Regions from separate parts of the Homo sapiens genome. Here region 2 is linked to region 1. Evidence: fine-mapped expression QTL. A gene starts in region 1. The other region holds a variant in brackets. All regions are shown on one strand. Distances are between the middles of the regions. Region 1 holds the start of SCN4B (sodium voltage-gated channel beta subunit 4). Region 2 overlaps SMIM35 (small integral membrane protein 35).

Region 1 (2,912 bases):
GGTCCGTGATCACGCCGAAGTCCACCCAGAGACCCCTCGTTAAGAAGGCGGTGCGTTGGTGTGCCTGCAGCAGAAGTCAGACCATGAAGTGGGAGCGGGCTTCCCAGTCCGGACCAGTCCTAGACAGTAAAGAGGGCCTGTGATGCAGGGAGGGTCTTGGATGGTTGGAAAGGTGCTGAGGAGGAGATCGACTCATTTACAGAACCACCAGCCCAAGTAGCACCGCTCAGGTGAAACTCTTTCACTTGGGCCTGTCTGGGAAAAGGCTTACTCGTTCACAGCCTCGCCTCAGCCCTCTGACCTGGTTGTCACCCTGGACTCCTCCACCCCTACCCCAAAAGGGAGGCCGAGGGAGTCTGCCGTTCCGAAGAAAACAGGAGAGTTGGAGGAGGGCGAAAAGGCAGCATCTGAGGGGGACGGCCTAGGTAGGAAAAATGAGAAGCAGGGGTGCAGCGGGAGGGTGAAATGGGGCGCAGGACACAGACCAGGCGCGGACCAACCTGCTCCCTAACCTGGAGCGTGGTGATTTCCAAGGGGTCCATGGAGAAATGTGGGGCGGGGTGGCGTGGGGGTGGGGGAAGGGAGGGCCGGGGCAGTTTGCAATGGGAAAGCTCTGTTCCGGGCTTCCTAAAACAACCGCCGGAGTTGCTGAGCGATGGGGCAGAAGGTGGCGGGAGCGGGTCCCGAGGCTGCACGCGCGCCATGTCGCACGCCACCGAGGAGGCGCAAGCTGCAGTGGGCAAGCCCGCACACGCCCACCCGTTGCGGCAGCGTCCGCTGCGGACTTTAAAGCGGTCCCTTGGCGGTCCTGGGAGAGGGAGCCGCTAACCTTCCCGTGTTCCCCCAAGCAAAGCAAAACAGTCTTCCAGCAACCGAAAAGCTCCACCTCTACTCCCCCCGAACTATGCTCCTAATTGGCAGCTCAGCGCATGGGATGATGCGGGTGGCTGCAGGCCGGCCCTGCAGTGCCAGCCGCAGCAGCCCAGCCCCACTGGAGAGGGAGTTGGGGGCACGGCGTGGTCCCGGGGCTCCGGGACCGCGAGGCGGGGTGCGGCAGGCAGGGTGCGCAGCGGGCGGGGGCTCCCCGGCCTACGCGGCGGCCACCGCCCCTCCTGCGGCTGGAGCGCTTCCAGAGCAGAGGCGCAGCCTCGCTCGCCGCTGCGCTCGCTCCGTCTTCCTCCCGCTCCTGCTCCGGCTCCTCCTACTCCTTCCCTCCCGCCGTTGCTCCAGCAGCCGGCTCCCAGCAGCGGGCGAGCGCGCCTCCCCCTCCGCTCCCTCCCTCCCCCTCCTCTCGCTCTCTGCCCGCTAACTTTCCCGAGCCCCGACCGGCGGCGCAGAGCTCCGGGGTAGCTTTGTGGCCGAACGCCGACCTCGGGCGGAGAGCGCGGCTGTGCCCAGTATCCCATCCCCGCGACCCCCGCGCGCTCCGGAGAGAACAGGACTATGCCCGGGGCTGGGGACGGAGGCAAAGCCCCGGCGAGATGGCTGGGCACTGGGCTTTTGGGTAAGGCAGCCCCAGCTTGGTCTCTTCTCTTGCCTCCCCCCACCCCCAAAGAAGGGGACACTCGAGAAGGAAGATGCCTTGGATGGGGTGGGCTTTGGAGTGCGGCACGGAATGAGGATGGTGGCCGCCGGCTTCCTGCCTGGTTCCTGCCTGGTTCATAGGCTGTGCTCCCTGGGGACCGTGTGCGTCCCTCTCTACCCCATCAGCCCGCCAGTCTCAGGATTAGTTTTTTTGCTGTCCTTGGCACCTTCGGCTCCAGGTATTTGGAGCTGGATCTTGGGGCTGCAGCGCGGGTCTCCAGAGTTCAGAGGTTCAGGATGCTGGAGGAGGGGGGTCCGTGCCTTGAGTGCAGGGGATACCAGGTGGGTTGCACGTGTGACTGTTGGAATGGTGGTTTCCATCCCGGCCCAGAGCCGTTTGCTTGTTTCCCAGGCACCAGGCATGCACCAGTTGGGGGTGGGGGAGTCCCCTTCTTCCTGGGCCCTTTTCCTGCTTTGCTCCTCTGCCCTGTACCTCCCTCAGGAGCCACTGCCTTCCCTACAGCAGCACCTGAAAGCTGGAAGGGGCTGGAGGGGCTTGCGGGATCATTCAAGGCCCTTTAGGAACGGCCTTGTCTCTCTTCCTACAAAGAGATTCCGTAGGGAAGACCTGTTTGACCTGCTCCTGGCTCTTCATTTTTGAAGTGAATATGGAGACAGAGAAGACATGTCCAGAGGACACGGAGGAAGAAGCATTATTAATATCTATTAATATGCACATGAGAGTTTTGAGTGTCAAACTCCAAGAGATTAGGGAATGATATTTATTCATCCAGGATGTAATCTCCTCATAAATCATAGCCAGACTTTAATGTAAGCCGACTCCATCTCTGGCAACGGCATCTCTTCCTGTTTATATTGGTCAGATTTGGCTTTTGGCAGCTCCCTGCATTGGGTAAGACACACGGTGTAGGTATTTCTGCTGAAAACAGGGAGACAGAACCCTATAAGGGAAGTGGCTACTGTTTCTGCGAATGTAAACTGTGTGCAGATCTAGCAGGTTGGTGCCTGGTGGTGAAGAGGGGAGAGAGTATTTCTTGTACTTGGGATGTTTATTTACCTCTGTACCGCTAGATGGAAGACACCCTTGTTTTCTCCTGTACCTTGGCACAGATGTCATGCTGGTTTCACAGTGACCTTAATGAAGTGGGCCTTAGTGACGCCTGAGGCTCCTTTTCACAGGGTGGGCACAGCGCCATTCCATGCTACTTCCCCTCATCCCATCTCAGATCAGCCCAGGTCCCCATGGTGGCAATGGCAGGGGTAAAGGATCACTGAGGAATTCAAACTCAGCCAGTCATTAAACTACCCCACTTCACACCTCTGGCTTACCTTCCTGGGTGGTGGGATGCCAGTCCCTTGTTTGTTAG
Region 2 (2,912 bases), 120 kb after region 1:
AACACCAGGTAAAGACTTTCTGCTACCAAAATTGTTCAAAGCCTGACTTAATTGATGAGAGCTGATCCTTATTCACTTTTTGCCTTAACTGTAGAGAGAAAAATAAAAATTTCCATGCGTGTGCATGCAAATGTCTAACATTATTATGTATTAGTTTTTTGAATGTAAAAAAATAAGAAAAACAGAAATGACACATAATCTCACTCTCCAGAAAACTCCTTTTTTTGTTGTTGTTTTTTGTTTTGAGACAGAGTCTCATTCTGTTGCCCAGGCTGAAGTGCAGTGGCATGGTATCGGCTCACTGCAACCTCCACCTCCTGAGTTCAAGTGATTCTCGTGCCTCAGCCTCCTGAGTAGGTGGGACTATAGGCGCCTGCCACCACGCCTGGATAATTTTTGTATTTTTTGGTAGAGACGGGGTTTCACCATGTTGACCAGGCTGGTCTCAAACTCCTGACCGCAAGTGATCCCCACATCTCGGCCTCTCAAAGGCTGGGATTACAGGTGTGAGCCACAATGCCCAGCCTCCTGTATTTGTTTTTATTAGAGTAATACATGTACCTGGCAAAAAAAAATAAACTATGCAGGAAGATATAAAATGAAAAACAAAAGCTCTTTCCTACCACCACCCAGTTCCTCTCCCAGATCATCACATTACTTTTCTTCTGCATCTGTCCAGAAGAATAAGGTGTATATATACATTAAAATGCATATCATGAAATATATAGTCTTTTAAAAGAATTTTACTATATCCACTTAAACTTTGCTTTTTCATATATAATTATTCGTATTACTCTAGAATGTATTTCCTACAGACATTTCCCTACATAACCATGACACAGTGATCAAAATCAGAAAATTAATAACAATACACTACTCCCATCTAATTCTCACATTACTCAAGTTTTGTCAGTTGCCCCGATAGTGGCTTTTACAGCAAAAGGATACAATTCAGAATCACAAGTTGCATTTAGTTGTCATGTCTTTTTATTCTGCTTCAGTCTGGAGCATTTTCTCAATCTTCTCTTGAATGATCTTTATACTCAGGCTGGAGTACAGTGGTGTGATCTTGGCTCACTGTAATCTCTGTCTCCTGGGCTCAAACCATCCTCCCACGTAGCTGGGACCACAGGCACGCACCACCACACCCAGCTAATTTTTTTTTTTGTATTTTTTTGTTAGAGACGGGGTGTCGCCATTTGCCCAGGCTGGTCTCGGACTCCTGGCCTCAAGAGATCCTCCTGTCTCAGCCTCCCAAAGCACTAGGATTACTGGCATGGGCCACCATGCCTGGCCGATGCTGGTTTCTTCTCCTCGCCTCCCCTCAGGTGGTATGCCATTTCTGTTTGTCTCATTACTGATGAAGCTCACTCTGGTCACTTGATTAAGGTGGTGTTTGCCAAGCTTCCCATCTGTAAAGTTATTATTTTTTTCTCTTTGTAATTAATAAGTACTTTGTGGAGAGGAATTTGAAACTAAGTATGCCATTGTGCAGTAAACTTTTAATTAATTAATTAATTAATGTCTTTTGGACTCATGGTTTCTATTTTATTCAGTGGGTTGTTCCCGCCATCACTTATTTTGATACTCAAATATCAAATCAAATTTTGATACTCTCGCCTTCCCTTGAAAACTTAACAGCCATTGCTTTGTCCAATAGAAGCTAGCTTATATGTCATTTGACATGCTCCTATTGT[A/T]TTTTAGGACCTTCCTTATTGTTGCTGTGGCACAGAAAGATGATTCAAATTCATCTTTTACTTTCCCTGCTGGTACTGAAATCAGCCATTTCTCCAAGGGACCCTGGTTCCTTTGAGTGGAAAATGGCATTCAGAAGCCAAGATCTTAGTGGTAGATGTGTCTGTTGATATTGGGACATTGCTGCCTCAAGCCCTCCTAGTGGACAAAGCTACATACATCCATACAGGTCTATGTCCGTTTCTATATCTATTTATATGTGTATTAAACTGTAGTTCACACCAATAACTTCAATTCCAATCTAACACCACGAAATTTATTCTAGGTGTCTCTCTTTTTGTATTTGTAACTCTTTTTTCCAACAGTGTGAAGTCTGGCGTCCATTAGTCTTAACATACTACTTAATTAATCCTTTGTATGTAATCAACATCGATATTGATATTGATTGATCAGTATCAATCAATATCCAATCTCTGCTGCCATGTCCTCTCTAGCACTAATGTCTGTCTTCTTCTACTTGGGCTCTGATACTTCATGCTGGGCTGCACCATCATGGCCTTTCTTTTTGCCCTGTTGGGCTCTGACTCCACTTGGTGGGCCATAACCCCTAACACTGCCATGGATGCCCTCCTAATCCCATTCAGGCTTTGACTCCACATACCAGGCTATCCTCCACCTAGAACCCTCCTCATCCTGCTTTGGCTCTGATGCTCCAGGTTAGACTACCTCATTCCCTATGCCTTCCTCTTCCTGCTCAGCCCTGACTCCCCACACCAGGCTTCCCATCTTTATGGATACCCTCCTCCCCCAGCTTGGGATCAGGCATCTCGTGCTAAGCAGCCCTTCTCCATGGACCCCGCTTCACGCTGCTCAGGACCACCATAGTGCCACTCCACCACCAATGGCGGCTGGGCCCAAGAAAGAACATGCAGATATTCTATTCTTTAAGTTCTTTTATATTTGAAAATGTCTGTCTTTTATCTTTATATTTGAACATCTTGGGTTGTTAAAATATTTTTGGTTTTCACTTTCTTTCTCTTAGAACCTTGTAGATTGTGCTCTATTGTCTCCCAGCATTACGTTTCTGTGAAGAAGCCTGAGCCCAACATAAATTATGTTGCAAGTTGGGTGCGATGGCTCACACCTGTAATCCCAACACTTTAGGTGGCTGAGGCGGGTGGATCACTTGAGGTCAGGGGTTCAAAACCAGCCTGGCC

What was found.
Region 2: its variant is fine-mapped to the expression of SCN4B in whole blood (TOPMed, PIP above 0.99).

What each region holds. Positions count from the first base shown.
Region 1 is chr11:118,151,205-118,154,116 of GRCh38, reverse strand. SCN4B (sodium voltage-gated channel beta subunit 4) reads left to right here and starts at 1,294. Exons shown (of 5, transcript NM_174934.4): 1 at 1,294-1,504. The coding sequence starts at 1,444. RefSeq lists an enhancer at 176-676.
Region 2 is chr11:118,030,240-118,033,151 of GRCh38, reverse strand. The region is part of intron 1 of SMIM35 (small integral membrane protein 35); the gene reads left to right. Among named protein-coding and RNA genes, the nearest start is that of IL10RA, 45 kb to the right of the region's middle. The variant A/T (reference allele first, on the strand shown) is at 1,698.